3 linked regions of the Homo sapiens genome follow. The protein of the gene in region 2 interacts with the protein of the main gene of each other region in a pairwise test. Each region holds a gene or a part of one and is shown on either strand. Other genes may lie near its edges.

Evidence for each region.
Region 1: the proteins of ALB (region 2) and OTUD7B interact in binary tests that used the Homo sapiens proteins (3 or more experiments, as listed by UniProt).
Region 3: the proteins of ALB (region 2) and NR5A2 interact in a two-hybrid assay, tested with the Homo sapiens proteins (one study listed by BioGRID).

The regions. Positions count from the first base shown.
Region 1 is NC_000001.11:149,942,468-149,953,131, reverse strand, and holds part of OTUD7B (OTU domain-containing protein 7B), read left to right. Parts: intron 1-2,910; coding exon 2,911-3,038; intron 3,039-3,353; coding exon 3,354-3,503; intron 3,504-4,048; coding exon 4,049-4,163; intron 4,164-5,796; coding exon 5,797-5,881; coding exon of another isoform or gene 5,882-5,908; intron 5,909-8,066; coding exon 8,067-9,275; 3' UTR 9,276-10,664. UniProt on the Homo sapiens protein: Negative regulator of the non-canonical NF-kappa-B pathway that acts by mediating deubiquitination of TRAF3, an inhibitor of the NF-kappa-B pathway, thereby acting as a negative regulator of B-cell responses.
Region 2 is NC_000004.12:73,412,660-73,423,323, forward strand, and holds the end of ALB (albumin preproprotein), read left to right. Parts: intron 1-760; coding exon 761-975; intron 976-2,375; coding exon 2,376-2,508; intron 2,509-3,596; coding exon 3,597-3,694; intron 3,695-4,871; coding exon 4,872-5,010; intron 5,011-5,428; coding exon 5,429-5,652; intron 5,653-6,847; coding exon 6,848-6,980; intron 6,981-7,594; coding exon 7,595-7,639; 3' UTR 7,640-7,662; intron 7,663-8,432; 3' UTR 8,433-8,823; downstream 8,824-10,664. UniProt on the Homo sapiens protein: Binds water, Ca(2+), Na(+), K(+), fatty acids, hormones, bilirubin and drugs. Its main function is the regulation of the colloidal osmotic pressure of blood. Major zinc transporter in plasma, typically binds about 80% of all plasma zinc.
Region 3 is NC_000001.11:200,020,911-200,032,566, reverse strand, and holds the start of NR5A2 (nuclear receptor subfamily 5 group A member 2), read right to left. Parts: upstream 4,858-11,656; 5' UTR 4,720-4,857; coding exon 4,656-4,719; intron 1-4,655. UniProt on the Homo sapiens protein: Orphan nuclear receptor that binds DNA as a monomer to the 5'-TCAAGGCCA-3' sequence and controls expression of target genes: regulates key biological processes, such as early embryonic development, cholesterol and bile acid synthesis pathways, as well as liver and pancreas morphogenesis.

The sequences.
Region 1 (10,664 bases), on a different chromosome or scaffold from region 2:
CATAGGCATGGGCAAGGACTTCATGACTAAAACACCAAAAGCAATGGCAACAAAAGCCAAAATAGACAAATGGGATCTAATTAAACTAAAGAGCTTCTGCACAGCAAAAGAAACCACCATCAGAGTGAACAGGCAACCTACAGAATGGGAGAAAATTTTTGCAATCTACCCATCTGACAAAGGGCTAATATCCAGAATCTACAAAGAACTTAAACAAAGTTATAAGAAAAAATCAACCCCATCAAAAAGTGGGCGAAGCATATAAACAGACACTTCTCAAAAGAAGACATTTATGCAGCCAACAGACACATGAAAAAATGCTCATCATCACTGGCCATCAGAGAAATGCAAATCAAAATCACAATGAGATACCATCTCACACCAGTTAGAATGGTGATCATTAAAAAAGTCAGGAAACAACAGGTACTGGAGAAGATGTGGAGAAATAGGAACACTTTTACACTGTTGGTGGGACTGTAAACTAGTTCAACCATTGTGGAAGACAGTGTGGCGATTCCTCAAGGTTCTAGAACTAGAAATCCCATTTGACGTAGCCATCCCATTACTGGGTATATACCCAAAGGATTATAAATCATGCTGCTATAAAGACATATGCACATGTATGTGTATTGTGGCACTATTCACAATAGCAAAGACCTGGAACCAACCCAAATGTCCAACAATGATAGACTGGATTAAGAAAATGTGGCACATATACACCATGGAATACTATGCAGCCATAAAGAAGCATGAGTTCATGTCCTTTATAGGGACATGGATGAAGCTGGAAACCATCATTCTGAGCAAACTATCGCAAGGACAAAAAACCAAACACCACATGTTCTCCCTCATAGGTGGGAATTGAACAATAAGAACACTTGGACACAGGGTGGGGAACATCACACACCAAGGCCTGTTGTGGAGTTGGGGGAGGGGGGAGGGATAGCATTAGGAGATATATCTAATGTAAATGACGAGTTAATGGGTGCAGCACACCAACGTGGCATATGTATACTTATGTAACAAACCTGCACATTGTGCACATGTACCCTAGAACTTAAAGTATAATAAAAAAAAATTAGTGCAGGAGCAGCAAGCAGTTCCCATGCTACTCTAGATCTGAGGAGTAGCTTTGGGTGCATTCCTGAAAGTGCAGGCTAGAATCTGTTTATTGATCAATTTAGTACTGACACAAGCCTGTAATATGCTGTAATAAACTTTCTGTTTAAAAAAAAAAAGGTTGACCATGTGTTTATAATTGTTAAAGCTGGGTGATGGATACATGAGTGTTTAGTATATTATCATTTCTAGTATTGAATATGTTTAAAATTTTGAAATTTTCCATAATGGTTAAAAATTATAACCTATGCAGATTTTATTGTACATAAGAATAATCTGGGAGAGTTATTTAAAAAGCTGATTTCTGGACCTCCACCCCAGAAAAGTCCAGTTGAGTTGGACAGAGGTAAGGCCCAGAAATCCTTGTTTGTAATCAGCATCCAATATTGAATAAAATTGCTTTAGGGGGTGGAAGCCATTGAATATTGAGTATGTGAATGACAGGAGCAAATTTGTCCCTCCGTATTTGAACACGCTGACTCCAGTGGATAATGAAGTGGAAAGGAGTGGGATAAGATGCAGTTGTAGTAATCCAGGAAAGGGCCATGGATGAACAGTGTGGTAGACTAAAGATAAGCCCGGGAGACAGATAAAAGAAACACACAGGAAGGCCAGGCGTAGTGGCTCACACCTGTAATCCCAGCACTTTGGGAGGCTGAGACGGGCGGATCACGAGGTCAGGAGATCAAGACCATCCTGGCCAACACGGTGAAACCCCGTCTCTACTAAAAATTTAAAAAATTGCCAGGCACAGTGGCTCACGCCTGTAATCCCAGCACTTTGGGAGGCCGAGGCGGGCGGATCACGAAGTCAGGAGATCGAGACCACGGTGAAACCCCATCTCTACTAAATATACAAAAAAATTAGCCAGGCATGGTGGTGGGCACCTGTAGTCCCAGCTACTCGGGAGGCTGAGGCAGGAGAATTGCCTGAACTCAGGAGGTGGAGCTTGCAGTGAGCCCAAATCGCACCACTGCACTCCAGTCTGGGCGAAAGAGTGAGACTCCATCTACAAAAAAAAAAAAAAAAAAAAAATACAAAAAGTACAAAAAATTAGACCGGGCGAGGTGGCGGGTGCCTGTAGTCCCGGCTACTCGGGAGGCTGAGGCAGGAGAATGGCGTGAACTTGGGAGGCAGAGCTTGCAGTGAGCCGAGATCGCGCCACTGCTCCAGCCTGGGGGACAGAACGAGACTCTATCTCAAAAAAAAAAAAGAAAAAAAAACAAAAAACACACGGGAGATGGAATTGGTTAAATCACGTGACTACTGGAAGGTGAGAGATAAAAGCACAATAAATATTTCCAAATTTCTGATTATGCTACTGGATAGATGGTGAAGCTGTTCTTTCAGTGAGGAAAGGAACATAGGAAAGGAATTGTGTTTGGCTGTTTTTGTAAGACATGAGTGTGATGTGTGGGTGGCTGTAGTATATAAAATAAGTAGGATGAAGCTATGCAGTTGTGTATTGAGCTACTGGATGAAGAGAATGGAGAGAGGCTATTGAACAGGAAGAATATTAAGAGATAGGGATTACCTCCAAATTCCTAACACTGCTTTAACCCTAGAGCCTTCAAATCTCTTTTCTTGGATTTCCCCATCTGTGAAAACGGAGGTAGAAACAGCCATGGTAGCATAAAATAATCAGCTATATCAGTGGCAGCCTTAAGATTGGAAAACCAGGAAAGGACATTCTTCTTTTCCCTTTCTGCAGAACTGGTCTTCAGGGTCTCCTGTTTCTACTCTCTCATTTTTACTGCACCCTTTTCACTCTCTCCCTTCCCGTCGTTCCAGGGTGGAGAGTTCTGAGGAGCCTGTATATGAGAGCCTTGAAGAGTTTCACGTCTTTGTCCTTGCTCATGTGCTTAGGAGGCCCATAGTCGTCGTGGCAGACACCATGCTGAGGGACTCCGGAGGGGAAGGTGAGTCAGCCAGTCAGTCCTCACTCCATGCTGAGCACCCCCTTTTGCAAAGCCTTAGGCTAAGCATTGGAAGGAAGGCAGGAAAGGGGATATATAGACCCTTGGGGAAAAAGCAAGTTATCAATTAGAATAGTGCAAAATTCTCAAGAGATTCTGAGTAAAGCAGTTGGGATTAGTTGACAGGGCTTCTTAGGAAAGAATTATTAAACATGTTGGAATGAAAGCAGGGAGGGACTCAGTTGGCAGAGTGGGATGTAGGGATTGTCCACTAGGCAGAAACACAGCCTTCATAATAATCTTCATGGCTTCCTGCAGCATTTGCCCCTATTCCCTTTGGAGGAATCTATCTGCCTTTGGAGGTCCCAGCCAGCCAGTGTCACCGCTCCCCTCTGGTGCTCGCCTATGATCAGGCCCACTTTTCTGCACTCGTGTCCATGGAGCAGAAGGAGAATACCAAGGAACAAGGTGCTGAATGACATGTCTTTTGGTCTGCATTATTTTCACTTGAAAAAATTGAATGAGATCTAATGTAGGAGGAAAGAATTAAGTGACATGCAAGCCCAGACAGCACATGTTGATACTGTTTTATTAAGCCAGAAGTTACGCCAGAGTTTTCAAATTAAAAAAAAAAGGGTTGGGAGAAAAGCAAGACCTATATACCCTCTTCTGGAGTAAAGGCTTATGATTAAGGTGTAAGAGCTTCTAAATGATGCTTTTCTAATTTGTCTTAAATTATGACTGAATTCTCTGAATATACATTAACTGGAAAGAACATCATGAGAGTTAGTTGACTGACTGGTGGGGACTCAGGGAGATTTGTGGCCTAAAACATATGCTGCGTGGTAGCGGGAAAACTAGCCAATTAGTTTTAATACCGGGGTAATTCACGTGTAAGAATTGAGAAGTGACTACAATTAAAGACCTTAGTATGATTTTAGTGAAATAAGTCTGTGTTCAGTTACCTTTCTCTCTTAAGGAGATTCCTTGATGATATGTTTCTTCCTCTCCAGCTGTGATCCCACTTACAGATTCAGAGTATAAGCTGCTGCCCTTGCACTTTGCTGTGGACCCTGGAAAGGGCTGGGAGTGGGGCAAAGATGATAGTGACAATGTCCGATTGGCCAGGTAAGCCAGGCCTAGTCTTTTCATCTATTTTGTGCTGGGATTTCTTCCACATGTGGCATCCATCTCCCAGGGATTTTTCCTCAGCTCAGGCAAGACAGTCACAAGCTAAGATGAGTTTTGGGAAGATGGGGAGGTAGAGGAGAGGTTGGGCACCAGGACTCTTTCATGGTGCAGCTGCTTTTTCTCCCTGTGAAAGAGATGGGAATCCTAGCATCTCAACTTGTTCTTTTCTTACAATAGGAAAAGTGTTCATACACTGATTCATCTCTAAAACATTGATCAGAAAATCAGGATAATCAGGCCGGGCATGGTGGCTTATGCCTGTAATTCCAGCACTTTGGGAGGCTGAGGTGGGTGGATCACGAGGTCAGGAGTTCGAGACAAGCCTGGCCAATATGGTGAAACCTCGTCTCTACTAAAAATACAAAAATTAGCCAGGCGTGGTGGTGCGTGCCTGTAATCCCAACTACTAGGGAGGCTGAGGCAGGAGAATCGCTTGAACCCAGGAGGCAGGGGTTGCAGTGAGCCGACATCGTGCCACTGCACTACAGCCTAGGCAACAGAGTGAGAGTCTGTCTCAAAAAAAAAAAAAGAAAGAAAGAAAATCAGGATAATCAAATCACATGTCTTAGCCCAAGTGAGAGGAGTTTTAAAGAGTTGATCAAGGCTGGGTGCGGTGGCTTATGCCTGTAATCCCAGCATGTTGGGAGAAACCACCATCAGAGTGAACAGGCAACCGAGGCAGGCAGATCACCTGAGGTCGGGAGTTTGAGACCAGCCTGGCCAACATGGAGAAACCACATCTCTACTAAAAATACAAAATTAGCCAGGCGTGGTGGTGCATGTCTATAATCCCATCTACTCGGGAGGCTGAGGCAGGAGAATAACTTGAATCCAGGAGGCGGAGGTTGCAGTGAGCTGAGATGGTACCATTACACTCCAGTATGGGCAACAAGAGTGAAACTCCATCCAAAAAATAAATAAATAAATACGTGATAAAAATAGTTTGCTCTGAGTTTTTGCCTTTCTGGAATTTAATAGCAAGAAAAATATGTTCCCTACCCTCTCAGCCCCCACTCTACCTCCCTGTGGCTTGTTAAGCCTTCCTTCTGCCTCCTGCATCAACTTCCTGATGGAGAGTGTATGAATGCAAAAGCTCCTCCCTTAGCACTTACCTAGTGCTTCACTCTCTGGGCTCCTGCCACTGGGTCCCAGCTAAGAGAGTTTGATTTTAAAATCCAGAGTTTATGGCTTTTTAAAAATAACCTCTCACCTATTTATCAAAAGCTCCTTCTAAATAATATTTACAACAACAACAATGATAATGGCTACTATCTAGTATTTCCCATTTTCCAGACACTGTGCTGGGCTCTTTCCAAACACTGTTTTAATCTTTACAACAACCCTACAGGATAGATATTATCTATACCCATTCTCAGCTGCAGCTGAGTTTCAGGGAGGTTGAAGTGACTTGCTCAAGGTCATAAAGCTTATTAATTGGTGGAGAAATAGTTCAAACCCAACCCTATTTGAGTCCTAAGCCATGTAGCCCTCTCCCACCCTTTCTCCCAACTATATCAAATTGCTTTGCTTTTAAAAGGTGACAGTAATTTGTTTTTTCTCTTTTTCATAGTGTAATTCTGTCCCTAGAGGTCAAATTGCATCTGCTGCATAGCTACATGAATGTGAAGTGGATCCCACTGTCCTCTGATGCACAGGTGAAGACTTCTCCCACATCTACCCTGGTGTGTCTTCATTTCATTTTCAGTGACAGAACAAGGAGATCTGGGATGGTTTCCTTCTGAATCTATTCTGAGTGGTGGCTTACAATTCAAGGTTAGAAGTAACTAGAAGATGTCAGATAAGTTCCAAAGACAATTTTTCCTGTTTTTATTGTATTTTTTATTTTTATTTTTGAGATGGAGTCTTGTTCTGTCACCCAGGCTGGAGTGCAATGGCACAATCTTGGCTCATTGCAACCTCCGCCTCCTGGGTTCAAGCGATTCTCCTGCCTCAGCCTCCTGAGTAGCTGGTATTACAGGCATGCGCCACCACGCCCAGCTAATTTTTGTATTTTTAGTAGAGGACAGGTTTCACCATGTTGGCCAGGCTGGTCTCGAATGCCTGACCTCAGATGATCTGCCCGCCTCAGCCTCCCACAGTGCTGGGATTACAAGTGTGAGCCACCGCGCCTGGCCTTTCCTGTCCTTTTTTTTTTTTTTTTTTTCAGAGGAAGTCTTGCTCTGTCAGCCAGGCTGAAATGCAGTGGCACAATCTTGGCTCACAGCAACCTCCACTTCCCAGGTTCAAGTGATTCTCCTGCATCAGCCTCACGAGTAGCTGGGATTACAGACGTGCGCCACCACACCCGGCTGATTTTTGTATTTTTAGTAGAGACGGAGTTTCACCACGTTGGCCAGGCTAGTCTCGAACTCCTGACCTCAGGTGATCCACCCACCTTGGCCTCCCAAAGTTCTGGGATTACAGGCATGAGCCACCACACCCAGCCCTTTCCTGCTTTTTAAAAACCGTTAGTCTCCTGTTTTCCACATCTCCTCTCCAGCCAGTCTCTGTTATCTGATACTAAAACATATATATATTTTTTGAGACGGAATCTTGCTCTTGATGCCCAGGCTGGAGTGCAATGACACGATCTCAGCTCACTGCAACCTCCACCTCTTGGGTTCAAGCGATTCTCCTGCCTCAGCCTCCCGAGTAGCTGAGATTGCAGGTGCCCGCCACCATGTCCAGCTAATTTTTCTATTTTTAGTAGAGATGGGGTTTCGCCATGTTGGCCAGGCTGGTCTTGTGATCCGCCTGCCTTGGCCCCCGAAAGTGCTGGGATTACAGGCGTGAGCCACCGCGCCTGACCTAAAACATATTATTATTATTATTATTATTTTTCTTTGAGATGGAGTTTCACTCTTTTTGCCCAGGCTGGAGTGCAATGGTGCGATCTCAGCTTATTGCAACCTCCGCCTCCTGGGTTCAAGCGATTCTCCTGCCTCAGCCTCCTGAGTAGCTGGGATTACAGACATGCACCACCACGTCCGGCTAATTTTGTATTTTTAGTAGAGATGGGGTTTCTCCATGTTGGTCAGGCTGGTCTGGAACTCCCGACCTCAGGTGATCCACCCACCTCGGCCTCCCAAAGTGCTGGGATTACAGGCATGAGCCACCGTGCCTGGCTTAACATATTCTTTAAGAAAGGTTTTCTGGACTGTTTGTTGAACTTGAGATGATCATTATTTCGTCCAAAGTCTTCTGTAGATAGACCTCTGTTTTGGGCACTAGGAGACGGAGTAGCTTAAAGAGCTCCTAATTCAGTGGGCTCTGAGTTAGAACAGGAGCACAGGAGTAGGGTCAAATTGATAACTCCAATGCAGAATGTATAAAAGTTGAGGGGATGCAAAGTGGCTAGACTTGGTTAGTTTTGATTAGTCAAGACTTTCTTGAGATTAGTTTCGAGCAGAATTTGGCATAGAGAAATGTATAATAAAGAACATTCTAATGTCTGGGCCTCTCACCCGGAAGCCACGTATCATATGGTTGCTCATTGTTCTAAATGAACAGTAAGGCTTTATTCTACTATCTCCTTATTACAGAAGGGAGTCAGATTGCAGTGGGGGAGAAAGCTGACTGACTGGAACCCAGGAAGGACAGTGCCATCCTGGGTGACCCTTCCCTCATCATGACAGAAGCCCTTCTCTGGAGCAAGGCAGTCACTAGGCAATCACTCAGAGGACGGAGTTCATAGGTGTCCATCCTTTTCTACCTGGCTAATTTCTATAGCCATGGCTGCAGGGAGCTCCCTGAGCCAGATGGATGGGCTAGAGGTCCCTGGGGGATTCCCCCACCCCAGGCTGCTGGGATAACTGTCAACAGTGTTCTTGTCTCTTCCAGGCTCCTCTGGCCCAGCCTGAGTCCCCCACCGCCTCAGCTGGAGATGAGCCCCGGTCCACTCCTGAGTCTGGAGACTCAGACAAGGAGTCAGTTGGCAGCAGTTCCACCAGCAACGAGGGCGGCCGGCGGAAGGAGAAGTCAAAGCGAGATCGGGAGAAGGACAAGAAGAGAGCAGATTCTGTGGCTAACAAACTGGGCAGCTTTGGCAAAACCTTGGGCAGCAAGCTCAAGAAGAACATGGGGGGCCTGATGCACAGCAAGGGTTCAAAGCCTGGAGGGGTGGGGACAGGGTTGGGAGGAAGCAGCGGCACTGAGACACTGGAGAAGAAGAAGAAAAACTCACTGAAGAGCTGGAAGGGTGGCAAGGAGGAGGCAGCTGGGGATGGGCCTGTGTCTGAGAAGCCCCCAGCTGAGTCTGTTGGTAACGGAGGGAGCAAGTATAGCCAGGAGGTGATGCAGAGCCTGAGCATTCTGAGGACTGCCATGCAAGGGGAGGGGAAGTTTATTTTTGTTGGAACCCTGAAGATGGGTCACCGTCACCAGTATCAGGAGGAAATGATCCAGCGCTACCTTTCTGATGCTGAGGAGAGATTCCTGGCAGAACAGAAGCAGAAGGAGGCAGAGAGGAAGATCATGAATGGAGGAATAGGGGGTGGCCCTCCTCCAGCCAAAAAGCCAGAGCCAGATGCTAGGGAAGAGCAGCCGACCGGTCCCCCAGCAGAGTCCAGGGCAATGGCATTTTCCACTGGCTACCCTGGGGACTTTACTATCCCTCGGCCGTCTGGGGGCGGAGTCCACTGCCAGGAACCCCGGAGGCAGTTGGCAGGGGGTCCATGTGTCGGGGGCCTACCACCATATGCCACCTTCCCCAGACAGTGCCCTCCTGGGCGACCCTACCCCCACCAGGACAGCATCCCTTCTCTGGAGCCAGGCAGCCACTCTAAGGATGGACTTCACAGGGGTGCCTTGTTACCACCCCCCTACCGAGTGGCTGATTCCTATAGCAATGGCTACAGAGAGCCCCCTGAGCCAGATGGATGGGCTGGAGGTCTCCGGGGCCTTCCCCCAACTCAGACCAAATGCAAACAACCGAACTGCAGCTTCTATGGACACCCTGAGACAAACAACTTCTGTTCCTGTTGTTACAGGGAAGAACTGAGGAGGAGGGAGCGGGAACCGGATGGGGAGCTCCTGGTGCACAGGTTCTGAACGGGTGGAACACTGAAGGGCAAGGAGGCTAAACAAAGTTAAGCTCAACTAATTGGCTCATCAAGAACACAGTCCCCATGTTGAGGGGGAAAATGCAGTAATGTTTGTGGGAGCCTGGCTGGAAACTTTTAAGTGTGTGCACACAGGAGTGCTGCCAGGCTGGCAAGAGCAGGTCGGGGCTGGATGGCACCTCAGGGGCTGTACTATTCCTCTGCAGAGCTTGACTTGATGAGGTTTGAGGTACAAGGGGAAAAGATGGCGATTCTGTCTTATAACCTCCTGGGTCCCATCCAGGGACCTAAGAGAAAGTAGCAGGGGAAGGTTTGGTGTGTGGGGGTGGGAGGTGGGCAGAAGTCTTGGGGAGGAATGGGCAAAGGAGGTTCTCAGTCAATAAAACCAAAGTTCTTTAGGTTGGGAAAAAGCACATGGTGGAGTGAGAAGTGTGGAGGGGAAGTGGGAAATTGGACACATTTGCTATTGATTTGAATTAAGCTAGAAATTAAGGTTGGATAAATTCTTCCCCTTGAAGGATCTGGAAAGACAAGGCAGTAATGTGTCCTCATGGGTGCCTGTTAGGAGGTGGGGGTAGTTTAAATCCGTTTGTTTAGATGGGAAAGGGAGGAACTTAAGAGGGAAATCCTTTTCCTCTTAAGGTTTATTTCCTTCCAAGCAGTCATATGTCATCTGTTACAGTTTGAGAAGAGATTGCTGATTACCCCCTGTCTTTTCCTCATCTAAGTCTTTAATTGTATTTGTTTAAAGGGAAGAGTGTGGTGAGAACAGCCGTCATGTGTGTTGCATTTTCTCCAGGTGAATTGGGGCAGAGCTGATCTATTTTTTAACCACAGCAATAACCATACGTTGGGGTTTGAGTGCACCTTGGGAGGGGTGGGAGGACAGACATTTTAGCCAGAGGCTGTTTCAAACAAAACCAAAAACCTAAGTAGAGCATTACAGGCCTCTGTGGCTGCTGCGTTTCTGTAGAAAGCAACTTATTTTATTGACTTTTTTTTTTAAGGAAAAGAAATAAAAAGACCCCAGCAAGCAAAAACATTTAAAAAATGATTTTTTTTCCTCCTACTTAAGTGGTTCTTTCTCCCTTTGCTCTACTTTTGGAGAATGAACTTAACATCCCGGCTTCTTTTGTTAAGCCATAGCTGACCTTAATCTGTGGTTAGTTTATTAAAATAATTAAAAATACTTTCTAAGAAGAGATATTTTTGATATTAGGACTGATGTTGAAACATATAGGGGCAATTTATAAAAAGGTAGTTAGAGAAATATATTTTAGTGAACTATAACCACAGAGCACAGATGACTCCCAATGAGCTGATCTGTCTTTAGGTTTCTCCCTTTCCCTGACCCTTCCCTGTTCTCTAGGGGCTGGGA
Region 2 (10,664 bases):
GTCTCGAACTCCTGACCTCAGGTGATCCACCCGCCTTGGCCTCCCAAAGTGCTGGGATTACAGGCATGAGCCACCTTGCCCAGCCTAAGAAGATTTTTTGAGGGAGGTAGGTGGACTTGGAGAAGGTCACTACTTGAAGAGATTTTTGGAAATGATGTATTTTTCTTCTCTATATTCCTTCCCTTAATTAACTCTGTTTGTTAGATGTGCAAATATTTGGAATGATATCTCTTTTCTCAAAACTTATAATATTTTCTTTCTCCCTTTCTTCAAGATTAAACTTATGGGCAAATACTAGAATCCTAATCTCTCATGGCACTTTCTGGAAAATTTAAGGCGGTTATTTTATATATGTAAGCAGGGCCTATGACTATGATCTTGACTCATTTTTCAAAAATCTTCTATATTTTATTTAGTTATTTGGTTTCAAAAGGCCTGCACTTAATTTTGGGGGATTATTTGGAAAAACAGCATTGAGTTTTAATGAAAAAAACTTAAATGCCCTAACAGTAGAAACATAAAATTAATAAATAACTGAGCTGAGCACCTGCTACTGATTAGTCTATTTTAATTAAGTGGGAATGTTTTTGTAGTCCTATCTACATCTCCAGGTTTAGGAGCAAACAGAGTATGTTCATAGAAGGAATATGTGTATGGTCTTAGAATACAATGAATATGTTCTGCCAACTTAATAAAGGTCTGAGGAGAAAGTGTAGCAATGTCAATTCGTGTTGAACAATTTCCACCAACTTACTTATAGGCGGACCTTGCCAAGTATATCTGTGAAAATCAAGATTCGATCTCCAGTAAACTGAAGGAATGCTGTGAAAAACCTCTGTTGGAAAAATCCCACTGCATTGCCGAAGTGGAAAATGATGAGATGCCTGCTGACTTGCCTTCATTAGCTGCTGATTTTGTTGAAAGTAAGGATGTTTGCAAAAACTATGCTGAGGCAAAGGATGTCTTCCTGGGCATGTAAGTAGATAAGAAATTATTCTTTTATAGCTTTGGCATGACCTCACAACTTAGGAGGATAGCCTAGGCTTTTCTGTGGAGTTGCTACAATTTCCCTGCTGCCCAGAATGTTTCTTCATCCTTCCCTTTCCCAGGCTTTAACAATTTTTGAAATAGTTAATTAGTTGAATACATTGTCATAAAATAATACATGTTCATGGCAAAGCTCAACATTCCTTACTCCTTAGGGGTATTTCTGAAAATACGTCTAGAAACATTTTGTGTATATATAAATTATGTATACTTCAGTCATTCATTCCAAGTGTATTTCTTGAACATCTATAATATATGTGTGTGACTATGTATTGCCTGTCTATCTAACTAATCTAATCTAATCTAGTCTATCTATCTAATCTATGCAATGATAGCAAAGAAGTATAAAAAGAAATATAGAGTCTGACACCAGGTGCTTTATATTTGGTGAAAAGACCAGAAGTTCAGTATAATGGCAATATGGTAGGCAACTCAATTACAAAATAAATGTTTACATATTGTCAGAAGTTGTGGTGATAAACTGCATTTTTGTTGTTGGATTATGATAATGCACTAAATAATATTTCCTAAAATTATGTACCCTACAAGATTTCACTCATACAGAGAAGAAAGAGAATATTTTAAGAACATATCTCTGCCCATCTATTTATCAGAATCCTTTTGAGATGTAGTTTAAATCAAACAAAATGTTAATAAAAATAACAAGTATCATTCATCAAAGACTTCATATGTGCCAAGCAGTGTGTGCTTTGTGTAGATTATGTCATATAGTTCTCATAATCCACCTTCCGAGACAGATACTATTTATTTTTTGAGACAGAGTTTTACTCTTGTTGCCCAGGCTGGAGTGCAATGGTGCCATCTCGGCTCACCACAACCTCCGCCTCCCAGGTTCAAGCGATTCTCCTGCCTCAGCCTCCTGGGATTACAGGCATGCACCACCATGCCTGGCTAATTTTGTATTTTTAGTAGAGATGGGGTTTCACCATGTTGGTCAGACTGGTCTCAAACTCCTGACCTCTGGTGATATGCCTGCCTCAGCCTCCTAAAGTGCTGGGATTACAGGCATGAGCCACTGTGCCCAGCCGACAGATACTATTATTATTTCCATTCTACCGAGAAGGAGACTAAGGCTCTGATCATTTAAATAAGTTGCCTAAGGTGATGCAGTGATATAAGTAGCAGAGCTAGGAATTGAGCCTTGGTAACTTTAACTCTGGACCCCAAGTCCTTAGCTACTAAGCTTTACTGCATGGGGTTTAGTCAAATTAAGACTTTTGGAATATGAGTTACTTTTGAGATTAGCTTTGTGATATTTTTTGTGCTCATTTGTCCAACAAAGTCTATTTTATTTTCATCTTAATTAGGTTTTTGTATGAATATGCAAGAAGGCATCCTGATTACTCTGTCGTGCTGCTGCTGAGACTTGCCAAGACATATGAAACCACTCTAGAGAAGTGCTGTGCCGCTGCAGATCCTCATGAATGCTATGCCAAAGTGGTAGGTTTATTGTTGGAAAAAAATGTAGTTCTTTGACTGATGATTCCAATAATGAGAAAGAAAAATAATGCAAGAATGTAAAATGATATACAGTGCAATTTAGATCTTTTCTTGAGATGGTTTCAATTCTGGAATCTTAAACATGAAAGAAAAAGTAGCCTTAGAATGATTAACAAAATTTAGACTAGTTAGAATAGAAAGATCTGAATAGAGCAATCTCTAAAAAATTTTGATCTTTTTTTCTCTTTTTCACAATCCTGAGAACAAAAAAAAATTAAATTTAAATGTTAATTAGAAGATATTTAACTTAGATGTAAAGTGAGTTAACCTGATTCCAGGATTAATCAAGTACTAGAATTAGTATCTTATGGCAAATTATAGAACCTATCCCTTTAGAATATTTTCAAATCTTTTTGAGGATGTTTAGGAATAGTTTTACAAGAAATTAAGTTAGGAGAGGAAATCTGTTCTGGAGGATTTTTAGGGTTCCCACTAGCATATGTAATGGTTTCTGAACTATTCAGAATCAGAGAAAACTCATTTTTCCTGCTTTCAAGAAGCTACTGTATGCCAGGCACCATGCACAAACAATGACCAACGTAAAATCTCTCATTTTGGAGAGCCTGGAATCTAACTGGAAAGGTGAACTAATAATAATAATATGTACAATCATAGCCATCATTTATTAAACTTTTATTATATGCAAGGCACTGTTTAATTTCATTAGCTTACCTGGTTTACAGAGCAGCTCTATGAGATGAGTGCCATCTTTGCCCCTATTTTAGGGATAAGGATTCTGAAATGTGGAGATGGTAAGTAAAATTGCACAACTGAAGAATGAGTTACATGACTTGGCTCAAATACTGGTCATTGAACTCCAGAGCCTGAATATTCTTAACCACTTACATGATGCAAGCTCACCAAATAAATAGTTCGAATGTATTGTGACAGAGCGGCATTGATATTCATCTATTCATGTGGCTTTGAGTAGGAAGAAGAAAGGATATCATTCTGACCAGAGGGGTGAAAAACAACCTGCATCTGATCCTGAGGCATAATACTATTAACACAATTCTTTTATGTTTCAGTTCGATGAATTTAAACCTCTTGTGGAAGAGCCTCAGAATTTAATCAAACAAAATTGTGAGCTTTTTGAGCAGCTTGGAGAGTACAAATTCCAGAATGCGTAAGTAATTTTTATTGACTGATTTTTTTTATCAATTTGTAATTATTTAAGACTTAATATATGAGCCACCTAGCATAGAACTTTTAAGAATGAAAATACATTGCATATTTCTAATCACTCTTTGTCAAGAAAGATAGGAGAGGAGAGATAAAATAGTTGATGGGGTGGAGAGGTCTATATTTGAATGTAGTCTAAAAATTGTTCTCTTAAGATTGGAAGTATGTAGGCTGGGAGGGTAAATACCAAATCTTGGTATATCAGAACTGAGCATGTCCCTTGAAGGTTAAGAAATAGTTAATGGGCAAATAGAGCATGGCAATATTTTGTAGAGCAGCAAGTAGTAGGCCTTGAATAGATGTCGCTCAAAAAGTAATATGTAAGCTGAACACAAAAATGTAACAAATGAATTTAGATACATATTTGAATATTAAATTCAGGTTGTTTGGGAGATGCACCTAGTCTTTGATGGTTAAACCTTTCCCTCCATAGAAGAGACAGAGACAGAATGGCTTGCTGGACTAATGTCCCAATTCAATAGAGTCTTATCTATGAAGGTTAAAAACAAGAAGAGACATATTATACAGTAGATATTTATTGTGTGGCTCATACACATGGTGCTCTTCTGATTATGGATTTTAGAGATAATAACAGTGAACAAGACATAGTTTCTTTCCTCGAGTAGATTAAAGTCATACATTGACTTTTAATGGTGACTGGCATTCTTAATACATGATTATTATATATTAGGTACCATGTCAGATTAATTATAATACTTTACTACTTTTAATTTAACCCTTGAACTATCCCTATTGAGTCAGATATATTTCCTTCCATTTTCTACTTGTATCTTTCAAGTTTAGCATATGCTGATACATATGAAGCTCTCTCCAGGTTTTATTGAAAGAAGAAATTAATAAATTTATTAATGTCACTGAATTAGGCAACTCACTTTCCCAAGATTATGCAAGTGGTACAGGTGGAACTCAAAGCCAAGTTTAACTAGTTGTTCAGGAGAATGTTTTCTACCCTCCACTAACCCACTACTCTGCAGATGGAGATAATATGATGAATGGAACATAGCAACATCTTAGTTGATTCCGGCCAAGTGTTCTCTGTTTTATCTACTATGTTAGACAGTTTCTTGCCTTGCTGAAAACACATGACTTCTTTTTTTCAGGCTATTAGTTCGTTACACCAAGAAAGTACCCCAAGTGTCAACTCCAACTCTTGTAGAGGTCTCAAGAAACCTAGGAAAAGTGGGCAGCAAATGTTGTAAACATCCTGAAGCAAAAAGAATGCCCTGTGCAGAAGACTATGTGAGTCTTTAAAAAAATATAATAAATTAATAATGAAAAAATTTTACCTTTAGATATTGATAATGCTAGCTTTCATAAGCAGAAGGAAGTAATGTGTGTGTGTGCATGTTTGTGTGCATGTGTGTGTGCATGCACGTGTGTGTATGTGTGATATTGGCAGTCAAGGCCCCGAGGATGATAATTTTTTTTTTTTTTTTGAGACGGAGTCTCGCTTTGTTGTCCAGGCTGGAGTGCAGTGGTGCCATCTCGGCTCACTGCAACCTCCGCCTCCCAGGTTCAAGCCATTCTCCTGCCTCAGCCTCCCAAGTAGCTGGGACTACAGGTGCATGCCACCATGCCTGGCTAATTTTTTGTATTTTTAGTAGAAAATTTTCAGCTTCACCTCTTTTGAATTTCTGCTCTCCTGCCTGTTCTTTAGCTATCCGTGGTCCTGAACCAGTTATGTGTGTTGCATGAGAAAACGCCAGTAAGTGACAGAGTCACCAAATGCTGCACAGAATCCTTGGTGAACAGGCGACCATGCTTTTCAGCTCTGGAAGTCGATGAAACATACGTTCCCAAAGAGTTTAATGCTGAAACATTCACCTTCCATGCAGATATATGCACACTTTCTGAGAAGGAGAGACAAATCAAGAAACAAACGTGAGGAGTATTTCATTACTGCATGTGTTTGTAGTCTTGATAGCAAGAACTGTCAATTCAAGCTAGCAACTTTTTCCTGAAGTAGTGATTATATTTCTTAGAGGAAAGTATTGGAGTGTTGCCCTTATTATGCTGATAAGAGTACCCAGAATAAAATGAATAACTTTTTAAAGACAAAATCCTCTGTTATAATATTGCTAAAATTATTCAGAGTAATATTGTGGATTAAAGCCACAATAGAATAACATGTTAGGCCATATTCAGTAGAAAAAGATGAACAATTAACTGATAAATTTGTGCACATGGCAAATTAGTTAATGGGAACCATAGGAGAATTTATTTCTAGATGTAAATAATTATTTTAAGTTTGCCCTATGGTGGCCCCACACATGAGACAAACCCCCAAGATGTGACTTTTGAGAATGAGACTTGGATAAAAAACATGTAGAAATGCAAGCCCTGAAGCTCAACTCCCTATTGCTATCACAGGGGTTATAATTGCATAAAATTTAGCTATAGAAAGTTGCTGTCATCTCTTGTGGGCTGTAATCATCGTCTAGGCTTAAGAGTAATATTGCAAAACCTGTCATGCCCACACAAATCTCTCCCTGGCATTGTTGTCTTTGCAGATGTCAGTGAAAGAGAACCAGCAGCTCCCATGAGTTTGGATAGCCTTATTTTCTATAGCCTCCCCACTATTAGCTTTGAAGGGAGCAAAGTTTAAGAACCAAATATAAAGTTTCTCATCTTTATAGATGAGAAAAATTTTAAATAAAGTCCAAGATAATTAAATTTTTAAGGATCATTTTTAGCTCTTTAATAGCAATAAAACTCAATATGACATAATATGGCACTTCCAAAATCTGAATAATATATAATTGCAATGACATACTTCTTTTCAGAGATTTACTGAAAAGAAATTTGTTGACACTACATAACGTGATGAGTGGTTTATACTGATTGTTTCAGTTGGTCTTCCCACCAACTCCATGAAAGTGGATTTTATTATCCTCATCATGCAGATGAGAATATTGAGACTTATAGCGGTATGCCTGAGCCCCAAAGTACTCAGAGTTGCCTGGCTCCAAGATTTATAATCTTAAATGATGGGACTACCATCCTTACTCTCTCCATTTTTCTATACGTGAGTAATGTTTTTTCTGTTTTTTTTTTTTCTTTTTCCATTCAAACTCAGTGCACTTGTTGAGCTCGTGAAACACAAGCCCAAGGCAACAAAAGAGCAACTGAAAGCTGTTATGGATGATTTCGCAGCTTTTGTAGAGAAGTGCTGCAAGGCTGACGATAAGGAGACCTGCTTTGCCGAGGAGGTACTACAGTTCTCTTCATTTTAATATGTCCAGTATTCATTTTTGCATGTTTGGTTAGGCTAGGGCTTAGGGATTTATATATCAAAGGAGGCTTTGTACATGTGGGACAGGGATCTTATTTTACAAACAATTGTCTTACAAAATGAATAAAACAGCACTTTGTTTTTATCTCCTGCTCTATTGTGCCATACTGTTAAATGTTTATAATGCCTGTTCTGTTTCCAAATTTGTGATGCTTATGAATATTAATAGGAATATTTGTAAGGCCTGAAATATTTTGATCATGAAATCAAAACATTAATTTATTTAAACATTTACTTGAAATGTGGTGGTTTGTGATTTAGTTGATTTTATAGGCTAGTGGGAGAATTTACATTCAAATGTCTAAATCACTTAAAATTGCCCTTTATGGCCTGACAGTAACTTTTTTTTATTCATTTGGGGACAACTATGTCCGTGAGCTTCCGTCCAGAGATTATAGTAGTAAATTGTAATTAAAGGATATGATGCACGTGAAATCACTTTGCAATCATCAATAGCTTCATAAATGTTAATTTTGTATCCTAATAGTAATGCTAATATTTTCCTAACATCTGTCATGTCTTTGTGTTCAGGGTAAAAAACTTGTTGCTGCAAGTCAAGCTGCCTTAGGCTTATAACATCACATTTAAAAGCATCTCAGGTAACTATATTTTGAATTTTTTAAAAAAGTAACTATAATAGTTATTATTAAAATAGCAAAGATTGACCATTTCCAAGAGCCATATAGACCAGCACCGACCACTATTCTAAACTATTTATGTATGTAAATATTAGCTTTTAAAATTCTCAAAATAGTTGCTGAGTTGGGAACCACTATTATTTCTATTTTGTAGATGAGAAAATGAAGATAAACATCAAAGCATAGATTAAGTAATTTTCCAAAGGGTCAAAATTCAAAATTGAAACCAAAGTTTCAGTGTTGCCCATTGTCCTGTTCTGACTTATATGATGCGGTACACAGAGCCATCCAAGTAAGTGATGGCTCAGCAGTGGAATACTCTGGGAATTAGGCTGAACCACATGAAAGAGTGCTTTATAGGGCAAAAACAGTTGAATATCAGTGATTTCACATGGTTCAACCTAATAGTTCAACTCATCCTTTCCATTGGAGAATATGATGGATCTACCTTCTGTGAACTTTATAGTGAAGAATCTGCTATTACATTTCCAATTTGTCAACATGCTGAGCTTTAATAGGACTTATCTTCTTATGACAACATTTATTGGTGTGTCCCCTTGCCTAGCCCAACAGAAGAATTCAGCAGCCGTAAGTCTAGGACAGGCTTAAATTGTTTTCACTGGTGTAAATTGCAGAAAGATGATCTAAGTAATTTGGCATTTATTTTAATAGGTTTGAAAAACACATGCCATTTTACAAATAAGACTTATATTTGTCCTTTTGTTTTTCAGCCTACCATGAGAATAAGAGAAAGAAAATGAAGATCAAAAGCTTATTCATCTGTTTTTCTTTTTCGTTGGTGTAAAGCCAACACCCTGTCTAAAAAACATAAATTTCTTTAATCATTTTGCCTCTTTTCTCTGTGCTTCAATTAATAAAAAATGGAAAGAATCTAATAGAGTGGTACAGCACTGTTATTTTTCAAAGATGTGTTGCTATCCTGAAAATTCTGTAGGTTCTGTGGAAGTTCCAGTGTTCTCTCTTATTCCACTTCGGTAGAGGATTTCTAGTTTCTTGTGGGCTAATTAAATAAATCATTAATACTCTTCTAAGTTATGGATTATAAACATTCAAAATAATATTTTGACATTATGATAATTCTGAATAAAAGAACAAAAACCATGGTATAGGTAAGGAATATAAAACATGGCTTTTACCTTAGAAAAAACAATTCTAAAATTCATATGGAATCAAAAAAGAGCCTGCAGAACCAAAGTAAGACTAAGCAAAAAGAACAAATTACCTGATTTCAAACTACACTATAAGGCCATAGTCACCGAAACAGCAAGGTACTGGTATAAAAATAGGCACACAGACCAATGGAATAGAACAGAATAGAGAACCCAGAAATAAATCCACATACTTACAGCTAACTGATTTTAGACAAAGAAAACAAAAACATAAGGTGGGGAAAGGACAACTTTTTCAACAAATGGTGCTAGGATAATTGGCAAGCACATGTAGGAGACTGAAGCTAGATCCTCATCTCTCACCTTATACAAACATCAACTCAAGATGGATTAGGAACTTAAATCTAAGGCCTAAAACTATAAAAATTCTAGAAGATAACATTGGGAAAAACCCTTCTACATATAGGCTTAGGCAAGGATTTCATGACCAAGAACCCAAAACAAATACAATGAAAACAAAGATAAATTGCTGGGACTTCATTAAACTAAAGAGCTTTTGCATGGCATGGCAAAAGAAACAGTCAGCTGAGTAAACAGACAACCCACAGAGTGAGAAAAAAATCTTCACAATCTATACTTCTGACAAAGGACTAATATCCAGACTCTACAATGAACTCAAATCAACAAGAAAAAAAAAATCCCATCAAAAAGTGGGCTAAGGACATGAATAGACAATTCTCAAAAGAAAATATACAAATTGAAAACAAACATGAAAAAATGCTCATCATCACTAATAATCATGGAAATGCAAATCAAAACCACACTGTGATACCACCTTACCTCTGCAAGAATGGCCATAATTAAAAAAATAAAAAAATAGTAGATGTTGGCATGGATGCAATGAACAGGAAACACTTCTACACTGATGGTGGGAATGTAAACTGGTACAATTACTATGGAAAACAGTGTGAAGATTCCTCAAAGAACTGAAATAAAACTACCATTTGATTCAATAATCCCACTACTGGGTATCTATCCAGAGGAAAAAAAGTCATTATACAAAAAAGATACTTGCACACGCATGTTTATAGCAGCACAATTTGCGATTGCAAAAATGTGGGACCAACCCAAATGCCCATCAATCAACGAGTAGATAAAGAAACAGTATATATCACTGTTTCTTTATCCACTCGTTGATTGATATACATCATATATATTGATATACATGATGATATATATACACATATATATAGATATACATATATATATGTAGTATTTCATTGTGTGTATGGATATATGTATATATCAATGGAATACTACTCAGCCATAAAAAGGAATGAATTAATGACATTTGCAGCGACCTGGATGAGACTGGAGACTATTATTCTAAGTGAAGTAACTCAGGAATGGAAAAGCAAACGTTATATGTTCTCACTTATAAGTGGGAGCTAAGCTATGAGGATGCAAAGGCATAAGAATGACACAATGGACTTTGGGGACTCATAAAAGACTACAAACATGGTACAGTGTATACTGCTCGGGTGATGGGTTATGGGTGATGGGTGCACCAAAATCTCACAGATCACCACTAAAGAATTTACTCATGTAACTAAACACGACCTCTTCCCCAATAACCTATGGAAATTAAAAAATTTTAAAAAATAAAATAGCTAGTAATATTACAAAACACCCATATGATGCAATGTTATACCATCACTCAATAGCATTTTCAGGGCCATTTGTCCTGTAGGTGTTAAATTTATTAAATACTTATTATATGCCAAAATGTAAAACATGGCTTTTCTTTACTATTCAGACACTATAAGAAATTTT
Region 3 (11,656 bases), on a different chromosome or scaffold from region 2:
GGATGTGCTTGCTAACTTGATTGTCTTGCAGGGCTTGACAAAGTCCTTGGGGACAATTACATTATCACCAGATAAAACTGCTCATATAAGTGCTCATGGTCATCTGCATTCAGGTTATTTGGTGTTTAAAAGTTACACTCCAAATATCTTTTCTTACTTATCAACCACACAAAAACATACATAACAGCTTCCCAAAAGACTAAAGAAGAGACAACCTTTATCAGCTTGCCTGGTCAGTTCCAGTTCACATGGTTTTCTCAAGCTTGATCTCTCAAGATCATATTGGTCACATTTCAACACTTCCCCAGGGCCTCCCCAGAGCACAATGCCCTCCTGAAGTTCCTTGAAGCCAACTGGATTTTTCCAAGAAGTCTGTTCCAATAAGGTGAAGCGTGAGGAAGTGCAACTCAAAGAACTAGTTCTATCCTAAGGTAGACTCTAGAGCTGCGGAGTGAAGTTGTCTTGCCTGCCTAGTGCATCCCTGGGGGTGGGGATTGGGTTGGGCCTGTAGGTGGAAGTCTGACAATGTGCCCTTCTCTAGCTCAACTTATGCTCAAGGCTGAATCCAAGATAATCCTAGACATTGTGTCTGGTAGAGGGGTCAAGTAAAGGAGAGAAGCATTAACAAGCCTCTGTTCTCCCTTCCTCTATAAATCTCTCTTGGTTTGTTAGAAGAGGTGTTAAAGATGCCAGGTGTGGTGGCTCACATTTGTAATCCCAGCACTTTGGGAGGCTGAGGTGGGTGGATCACCTGAGGTCAGGATTTCGGGACCAGCCTGGCTAACATGGTGAAACCCCATTTCTACTAAAAATACAAAAAATTAGCCAGGCGTGGTGGCGTGCACCTGTAATCCCAGCTGCCTGGGAGGCTGAAGCAGGAGAATCTCTTGAACCCAGAAGGCTGAGGCTGCAGTGAGCCAAGATCATGCCATTGCACTCCAGCTTGGGCAACAAGAGTGAAACTCTGCCTCAAAAAAAAAAAAAAAAAAAAAAAAGGTGTTAAAGAAAAAGAAATCCTTTTTTTGTTTTGTTTTGTTTTGTTTTGTTTTTTTGAGATAGGGTCTCACTTTGTTGCCCAGGCTGGAGTTCAATGGCACAATCACAGCATCCTCAACCTCCCTGGCTCAAGTGATCTTCCTACCTCAACCCCCAAGCCCTAGTCACTAGGACTACAGGCACATGCCACCACACCCACACCCAGCTAATTATTTATTTTTTTATTTTTTGTAGAGACTGGGTCTCACTATGTTGCCTAGGCTGGTCTGGATCTCCTGGGCCCAAGTGATCCTCCATCCTCAGTCTCCCAAAGTATTGGGATTACCAGTTTGAGACACTGTGCCTGGCCCAAGAACTCTGTTAACTCTGGTCACTACCTGTGGATCCAGGCCAGAAAAGAGGAATCTGAGAAGCACTGTTTTGGAGATGGACTCGGGCATGGAAAGAAGGGAGGCTCTAGAGTTTAGCTTCATAGAAGAAACTGGCAGCCTAAGCCCCAACTATGAGAATCAGAACATGGGCTTGTGTGGCTGGCATTCTAAATAAAGCTCGCTGGAGGTTAGGGTGACATAATGGCTATCACACTTTCCGCTGATGAAACGTCTACTTTCAGAGATCCTTATGAGCACAGAGCTTGCTGGAGGTTATCACTGAAATAAAATCAGACTCAGAGTGTTCAGGGGACCAGATAGCAAGACTCACATTACAGACTCAATACAGTGTTTGCACTGTGTATCATGTACCCCTAAGTATGCAGACATAACCTTCTGTGGATAATATGCAATATTATACTGAGTGCATAAAATATTCTGCAAATGCAGTTAATTTGAAGAATTATGGAAATTTAATATGAATCAAAGCATAATATTGGGCACTGTGGGAGTGGTCAATAAATATTTGTTTTATGTATAACATTTCCTACCACACAGATATGGCTCTTTTCTTGATATAGGTAAGTATAAAAAGCTTCTAAAGTTAGTACTGCATATTATTCAATAGAATCATCCCACTTGGGAGAAAGAAGTAAACCAAGACCAGAAACCAAGAGTCTGGCCAGTGTCCCAGAGTTAGTTAACTTTAAGGGAACAATCTAGTTATAACCTGAGTGTGCTGCTTTTACACTACAATGAATGATTATCTTGCAGGTAGGCAGAAGGAACAACTTTATCTTAATTCTGCTTTTCTATACAAGCACAGACATCTATACAAAACTTTCATGTAACCATCAGTGTGCATACAAGATGTAGCCCCTAGTTAAAAACCATGGAGACAGCTTTTTAAACAAAAGGAGGCTCATTTCCTAGTACAACACAACTGAATTAAATATAGAATTGTAAACCCTGACTGATGTCTACATACACCGGGCTCGGTTTTGTGAACCACTCAACACAGCCCAACTTGCAATTTGCCATCTGAAAGCTACCCTCGAGACCCTCAGACACTCTCTACAGCTGCACCCGTGGGTTCTTCCCAGTGGGGCTACCCTGGGCAATCAGAAAGACCCATTCAAGGGGCATCTCTCCCTCAGGAATCGGGTCAGGCCCTTCAATCCAATAGTTCAGTCCGAAGGCTCCTCACCGCCCTCTGTTCCTCTCCCTCAGCCCTTTGGATGGCTCCGTCCAGCCATTCACCCTGGGAACGACCGTTAGCACCCTCGTGGAGGCTACGAGGTAAACAGATTGTCTCCCGGTGCCACAGCCGCCTCAGGGTCACTAAGATGTTGCAGGTGCGGACACCTCACAACCACCTGCGGGGCTGCAATACCAGGAGGCGGAGGGGATGTGCTTGGGTTGGGAAGGGGCGGGTGGCTGCGAACAAGATCCTGAAAGAGGTCTCTTTTACCGGCAAATTGACTGGAATTTTGTTATCCCGGAATCCGGCGCCCGGAAGTGCCTGCACAGGTTTAGGATGTTGGGGTAGTCTCGCTGAGGCCAGGGGAGAGCCTTCTTCGGTACTTTTCTTGAGGTTTAGTCCCCAGCAGCCCCTTATGGGCTGGACCGACAGTCCTCCGGTTCCCAGCCCTCTGCGGTGGGACCGATTCCAGAGCTGCAGGTGTTCTCTGTTTACGCTCAGAGTGTACCGCCTCGGTCCCTTGCGATGTGAGTTGCGCGTGCGGTAGCTGGAAACACAGTTCTTCCAGGGTTGCAGAGAAAAGTGCAACAGCGTCTCTTTCCCCTACCTTACCCTCTTTAATTCACCCATGGGGTGTGGGGGAGACTGTGAGGGATCGGCGTGCGTGGTCTCCCGACCCAGCTCAACTCTATTTTGGCAGCGGCCAGCTGGGGCTGCGCGCAGCAGGAGCCCAAGACCGCCCGCGCGGGCGCGAGCCCCCGAGCGCGCGTCCCCCGTGCGCGCGCAGTCCGCGTCTCCGGCCCGAGCGCGCTCTAGCTGCGGCCCCGGACGCGGAACCGGAGCTGCGCGGAGCTGCCGGGAAGGACTCCTTGCCTGCGCACCGCGGCGGTTCTGCCCGACGAAAAAGATGCGAAATGGTTGTGTGCTGCTCTCTCATCTTTCTTGTGCCTGTATTTTCTGTGTTATCTGCAGAACAATTGATTGTGTGTTACACCCTGCTTACCTTCCCCATGTTTTCTTTTTCGTAAGTATAGAACATTTTTGGTAAACATTTCCTCAAGTGATATACTTTAGGGTGTAGTTGGCCCATAAAAAAAGCAATCTGTGACTCCACTGCATTCTGTGGAGTCAGCTGACTAGGAAGGAAAAAAGAGGAAAAACTCAAGCCTTGATTTTCTTTCTTGTTATAATGGAGCTGAGACTCAGAGAGCTCATGACAGGCCCCTGCAAATTCGGAGGGAAATTCCAGTCTGAAAGCCTAGGCAAATGCTGCCAGAAAAGGCACAGGTCCTTCAAAAACTGGGGAAAGGCAGAAGGGCCTGACTTCCAACAGACAAATAATTACAGATCACTGGGAATCACTTCCCTTCAGTCCTTTACTTTTAGAATTAATTGAATGTAGTCTTGCTATAAAATTCATAAGTTTGTAACTCTATTTTTTAAATGAATAGTAGCTTTATTTACTTATTTCTGTTTGTAAAAACAAAATATACTAATTGTTGCGAGAAACAGTAGCTCTTCAAATCCTTTACTAATGATGGTCTAGTTTTTTTGGTTTTTTTTTTTTTTTTTTGGAGGTGGGGGCATGACTTTCATTCCCCAGGAAAATAAAATGAAAATTTTTTACGGTATAAGCAGAGAATAAGACACCATACTTTTGTGTGGGTTGAAAAGTAACAAATACTTGACAGCTATCTGTTAAAGTTTGATCAATGATCACTCAATATGATTAACTTGTTTCAAATTGTTCAAATTTTAGCTTATTATTTCTGATTAAAAATTATCAGAAAATATTAAAGTTGAAATTGATAAAGTATAAATTATATTTTCTGGCTGATTAGGGTATTAGAATGACACCAGTAAACACTAGATATAATGAATAATATTCATATGTTGAAATATCCATTTGCTTTTTTTGAACTGCAAGAAAGATAAATGTGTGATATATATACATAGGCTTATTGTGTGCTTTTAATAAACATAATAGGAAAAGCCATGACTTAAAATGCAAAATCCATCAACAAGATTAAATTATATGTATGTAGTAGCAGAATAAATAGATGATCAATAGAGAAACTCCTACTTACCAATAGGTGTAAGTCCGTGCTTTAAAGACTCTTGTAAATCCCCAGTATCTGAATTAGAAGACATTCTTAGTGAAATTATAGGCAGTTCTTTGGCTTAAAGCAGAAATCATTGAGCAAAAGAAAAGTGCAGCTTGTCAAATTTCGTGGCCTTGGGAAGGACACATCAGACTACAGTAACCCTTAGTGAAAGTTAAGAAAAAGCAAAGGAAAAAAAAAAATCCAGAATTCATAAAGTTACAAGCAAGTCTTTCCCTGGACTCTGTACTTTTTCCAACATTAGTGACCTGCTGTAAACCATGTATCCAGTTTCATGATGGTTTCTAATCAGAAGAATGGAAACTTTTGATAGGCTTTGACTCATCACATGACTCTATGCAGGTTGATAAGAGGACCCTGTTATAAAGTGACAGCAAAAGAGATAAGAATTCTTGCCAGATAATGGCAAAGAAATGATTAACTCAGAAGTGGAGAGGTGCTATGCAGCACAGAGAGTGGAAAGTTGTAAAACTGAGGGGTCAGAAGATCAGACTTAGTGGATAAAAACTGCAAACCAGCTAACTAACTTAGGCTAACTAAACTTTGGCTTGTGACATACCCCTTGATGTCATCACCTCTTTGCATAGAGGAGGACAGACATAGCTCTTCTGACCTCTGTAAATACATTTTAGATGATAACATTGGCAGACATTAATTCTTTAAGTGATGACTACAAATGTGATCGACACTCTGAAATACTACAGGTAGCATTTCCAAGCTTATGGTTATTTATTTATTCATGTTGTGGTCAACCAACTTTTTTATCGGGCCTATTCATTAGATGAGGAGTTAACCTTAGCTTGTTTCTACATTGGTCATATGGCTAAAACACAATCTATCTCTTTATCCCCAAAAGGTAAAACTTATGCTTTGAGATTAATGCTGGCAAAATGGTGAATATGTAACACATTTTTCATAGTTATAAAGTTATTATTCTTAGGCTGGGCATGGTGGCTCACACCTGTAATCCCAGCACTTTGGGAAGCCAAGGCAGGCGGATCACCTGAGGTCAGGAGTTCGAGACCAGCCTGGCCAACATGGTGAAACCTCCATCTCTACTAAAAATGCAAAAATTAGCTGGGTGTGATGGTGCACTCCTGTAATCCCAGCTACTTGGGAGGCTGAGGCGGGAGAATTGCTTGAACCTGGGAGGCAGAGGTTGCAATGAGACGCTGTTGCACTTCTCTCTGCAACCCTGGAAGAACACAATCCAAGATCATGCCACCGCACTCCAGCCTGGGCAACAGAGTGAGACTCTGTCTTCAAAAACAACAATAACAACAAAATAACAATTTTTTTTTTTTGAGATGGGTTCTCGCTCTGTTGCCCAGGCTGGAGTGCAGTGGCACGATCTCGGCTCACTGCAGCTTCTGTCTCCCGGGTTCAAGCAATTCTCCCGCCTCAGCCTCCCCAGTAGCTGGGATTACAGGGGCACACCACCATGCCCGGCTAATTTTTGCATTTTTAGTCAAGACGGGGTTTCACCGTGTTGGCCAGGCTGGTCTCAAACTTGTGACCTCAAATGATCTACCCGGCCTCCCAAAGTGCTGGAATTATAGGCGTGAGCCACCGCACCTGGCCAAAATCCTCAATTTTAATATTGACACTCCTTTTAAATTAAGTAAATGCAGGTTGTGTGTATGGGTACAGATAATTTTTAACTCAATATATAAACATTTGTTGTAATAAAACTTCATATATCAGATGATAGATTTAGCAGTCTTTGTCTAAAGATTCACATTACAGAATTTATGGTCTATTAATTTATTTAGAGATGGGATCTCACTCTGTCACCCAGGCTGGAATGGAGTGGCACAGTCATAGCTCACTGCAACCTCAGACTCATGGACTTAAGCAATCCTCCTGCCTCAGCCTCCTGAGTAACTAGGACTACAGATGTGTACCACCACACCCAGCTAATTTTTTAAATGTTTTGTAGAGACAGTGTGTTGCTGTATTGCCCAGGTTGGTCTCCTGGGTTCAAGCAGTCCTCCTGCCTCAGCCTCCCCAAGTGCTCAGATTACAGGTGTGAGCTACCTGTAAACCCAGGCCAGTCCTTTTTTTTTTTTTTTTTTTAATGACAGAGTCTTGCTCCATTGCCCAGGCTGGACTGCAGTGGTACAATCTTGGCTCACTGCAACCTCCGCCTCCCAGGTTCAAGCAATCCTCCTGCCTCAGCCCCCCTAGTAGCTGGGATTACAGGTACGTGCCACCATGCCCGGCTAATTTTTGTATTTTTAGTAGAGATGGGGTTTTGCCATGTTGGCCAGGCTGGTCTCGAACTCCTGACCTCAGGTGATTCACCCGCCTCGGCCTCCCAAAGTGCTGGGATTACAGGCATGAGCCACCACACCAGGCCCTTTTTTTTTTCTCTTTTGTTTTTTAATCAGATTACTGTTAGTTATTTCCCCTCTTGCCTCACTTCATGTCAGTTGAAATGTTGGAATACAGCATCTGAAAGTGCTGTCCACTGCCTTTCAGCTGTGCTGCTGGCTCTGAACTTTGCCCAAGGTGAACTTGCCTTTATCGGGTTGGGGTGGCTTGGGGTCTGGGTGACCCCTGAAGTCAGAATCAGAAGTGGCCACATTCGTGACTTGTGGTCTTCTGAGTATAAGAAATGTCCCCATTTGGATATCCTCACAGCCTCATGAAAGTAAGATTTTATTGAGTAGACCTGCTCATGGAAGGTGGGTAGTTTCCAAGTAGCACTGGTACACACCAAGTGAAATAACTGGTAATCCTGGCTGTCAGCGGAGCCAGGTCAACATGCTGGTATACGTGCTGTTTTTCCTTTGAGCTTTAAGTTCTTATGTACACATAACCAATCCAACCTACTTTTCATTAACACCATGTTAGGTATTATTTTCTTAGATTGATATTTTTCTTTTAAAGAAAAAAAAATCATAGGGTGGATTTTAAAATATTATTATTGAAACCAATGATTTCTTCTTTGATTTTAGATGGAAACCCAGAAGGGACCTTCCCCATCTTCTCTCTCTCTCTCTTTCTCTCTCTCTCTCTCTTTTTCTCCCTCTCCTTTCCTCTCCTCTCCTCTCCCCTCCCCTCCTCCCCTCGCCCCTCCCCTCCCTTCCCCCTCTCCTTCCTTCCTTCCTTCCTTCCTTCCTTCCTTTCCTTCTTTCCTTCTTTCTCTTTTCTTTCTTCTTTCTTTCTTGACAAGGTCTCACTCTGTCACCCAGGCTGGAGTGCAGTGGCATGATCTCGGTTCACTGCAACCTCCACCTCCCGGGTTCAAGTGATTCTTCTATGTCAGCCTCCCAAGTAGCTGGGATTACGGGCACCCACCACCACGCCCAGCTAATTTTTGTATTTTTAGTAAAGATGGGGTTTCACCATGTTGGCCAGGATGGTCTCAAACTCCTGACCTCAGGTGATCCACCCACCTCGACCTCCCAGAGTGCTGGGATTACAGGTGTGAGCCATGAGGCCCAGCTAATTTTTGTATTTTTTTGTAGGGACAGTATATCACCATGTTGCCCAGGCTGGTGTCGAACTCCTGGGCTCAAGCGATCCTCCTGCCTTAGCCTTCCAAGTGTGTGGAACATATATTTCTATGGACGTATTTTGCATCTGTAACTGCTTTGAAATATGTAGGTCTTCTTTTACACCTGCCAAAGTGTTGGATACACATTTCCTGAGGCCTTTCATATCATTCAGTCCATAAAATTACATAGTCCATCGGATCCTCTCAATGCACTGGTTGTAGCTCTGACAGTTTTCCTGAGGAAACCAGTCAGTTTGGGTTGCTGAATGCAGCCTATATAAGCACAAATTATGAGATCATGGTAAGAATGAAGGCAGGGTAGCAGGGTGGTTAAGAGCCTAGGATTTGAGGTCAGAAAGCTCAGGGCTTCCATTTGTACTTTGCCTCCTTCTTGGTGGCAAAGTAATGCTTGGCTTTTTTAAGGCTTGAATTCCTCATAAGTAAAAATGACAAAAATGATGAAATCCAGTAGTTTTTGTGGTAAGATGTAAATGAGAAATAAAGTACTCAGTATCATGTCAGAGAAAGAAAGTACTCAACGTGTCATCAAAAGTGAATATGGAGGTTGGGCGCAGTGGCTCACACCTGTAATCCCAGCACTTTGGGAGGCTGAGGCAGGTGGATCACTTGTCATCAGGAGTTCAAGACCAGCCTGGCCAACATGGTGAAACCCTGTCTCTACTAAAAATACAAAAAATTAACTGGGCAAGGTGGTACACGCCTGTAATCCCAGCTACTCTGGAGGCTGAGGCAGGAGAATTGCTTGAACCCAGGAGACGGAAGTTGCAGTGAGCCAAGATCGTGCCACTGCACTCCAGCCTGGGTGACAAAGTGACACTCCATCTCAAAAAAAAAAAAAAAAAAGTGATTATGGGCTTTGTGACTTGGGATCTTAAGTGAAAGACACATCTTCCTTAGTGGAATTTTAGAAGACATACGAAAGTTTCTGTTTTTGGGTTTTGTTTCTGACACCAGTTCTATCCTAGTCACATACACTATTAGAGACCTTATAGAAGACCTCATAGGATTCATATAATTAAACAGCATCATAAAGTGATTTGTGGCTGGGCACGGTGGCTTAACACCTGAAATCCTAGCACTTTGAAAGGCTGAAGCAAGAGGATCACTTGAGGGCAGGAGTTTGAGACCAGCCTGCACAATATAGTGACACTCTATCTCTTAAATAATAAATGAAATAATAAATAATGAGGAATAAGGAATAAATAATTATTAATAATAATAAATCCAAAAATAAAGTGATTTGCTTTTTTTCTCATCCTTATTGTACATGGTTAACAAAGCATGTAATAGCACAAAGATTGAATTTCATGCTATACTGTCTGCCTCTAATCAGACATAATTATTTTTAAGAATGTACAAAAAATTGGGGGTGGTAGTATTACCAGCTTGCCTAATAACTCCTAACAGAATCTTTAAAAGACACTATTTGCCATTTGTCACTCTCTTGCTTTCCTACAAAACTCACTGGCTTGTTGAGGAAACATTATATTAATGAGTTACTTTGGTCCTTTGAAGCTTATCCATCAGGCTGATTGAATAGAAATACGTACTCAGTACTTTGTGAGAAATGAACATATTTTTCTGAAAGTGAGGCTAGAGTAATGTTCACATGTGGTACAAATAACAGATGCTTGGGACTCAGCCTCAGTGACAGTTAACAAGCAATTTATGTTCTGGCCATGCGGGGGGGAGGACACAAAACAAATCACACCCTCAGTTTTTGTATTTATTTTTTCTCAATCAAGGTATCATCTGACCCTTTCCATTTGGCAAGTGTGGGCATTTTCCATTACAACATTCTGTTTTAAACACCTTCACTACCCCATTGAACTCATTCGATACCACAACATGGAATACTTCTAATGACTCACATTTACAAGAATATGTTTATAATGATAAAAAATATTTGCTAACAGATTTCAGAAAGGATTCGTAAATTATTGACAGATAACTAATGACTCTAAGGCATCTTTGCCAAAATCCAAAAAGTATTCAACAATGTCACCTGAACCCATATTGCATGATGATGTTAAAGTTTAGTTAATGAATTACAGTCAGTGTAAACTTCGTGACAACACTATTCCAAGACATTATGACATATCTATTAGGAATTGATATTCCTGCAAAATTGGATTTATCATTAACCCCTTGCATGAACAAACTAGAAAGGCCCTTTCAGTATGTTTATAATATGGGTTTATTAACAACAAACACCTTAAAATTTTCATCATTCAAATAGACTGATTGCATCAGATATGGAGGAGTTTTTAACAGAAGTCTTATAAGTACTGAACCAGTTAGTTACTGCCAAAGCATTGCTTAGTAGTGCATTTTTGCTTGTACCCTTTGCTAACATAGGCATTTGTCACTGATTTTGTACAGAACCTGAGCTAGGGTTGGCACTTTTTATTTTTTATCAACTTTCTTAATAATCCTCTCCTCTGCCAAATTATATAAGATGATGGAATGGTACATTTTGGAAAGGAGTGACTGAGTAAAGATTTCTTCTCATTCTTTTAAATAACTGTGAGAAATGTGGCACCTGGCAGGAAAGATAAGTGACTTTTACACAATACGATTATGGCCAGGTAAATATTACTCACTTTTTATAACACCAATAATTAAACAGAGCCTTAGTCAATCTTTTGGCAATTGAATGTTTAAGACTTTACTCTCTTGTAGGCTTGTGCTGAGTTCCCCATGTTTATCACAATCTATGATCTGTGTCTGATGGCTCATAGTTCATATCTTTATTTAGAGTACAAGAAATAAACTCAATATCATTTTGTTTCAATTTAAGGCCTTTAAAGACATTTAAGCAAACAACTAAATGATCTAAATTGTTTTTAAAAGAGGAAACTGTAGCATATCCAAAGTGATTTCCCTAGGAATCACAGCATAATTATTATTAAAACACAAAGCAACAAAATAGATCTCAAGCATTTTTTTTTTTTTTTGAGACAAAGTCTTGTTCTGTTGTCCAGGCTACAGTGCAGCCGCACAATCTCGGCTCACTGCAACCTCCATCTCCTGGGTTCAACCTATTCCCCTGCCTCAGTTTCCCAAGTAGCTGGGACTGCAGGCACATGTCACCATACCCGGCTAATTTTTGTATTTTTCGTAGAGATAGGGTTTTGCCATGTTGGCCAAGCTGGTCTCAAACTCCTGACCTCAGGTTATCCACCTGCCTTGGCCTCCCAAAGTGCTGGGATTACAGGCATGAGCCACCACACCCAGCCATCTCAGGCACTCTTAATTCATGAAACTGGATGTTATATATTACCTAATAGTCTGGCAGACTACATAAATAAAACAATCATTCAAATAATAGATTTTCCTCTAGACTGAAATATTTCATATGGGTGAAACTTACATGGGGCTATATAACTCAATTTTGATTTATGTTTCAGTGATTTTAATCAACTTTTTTTTTTGCCCTCTC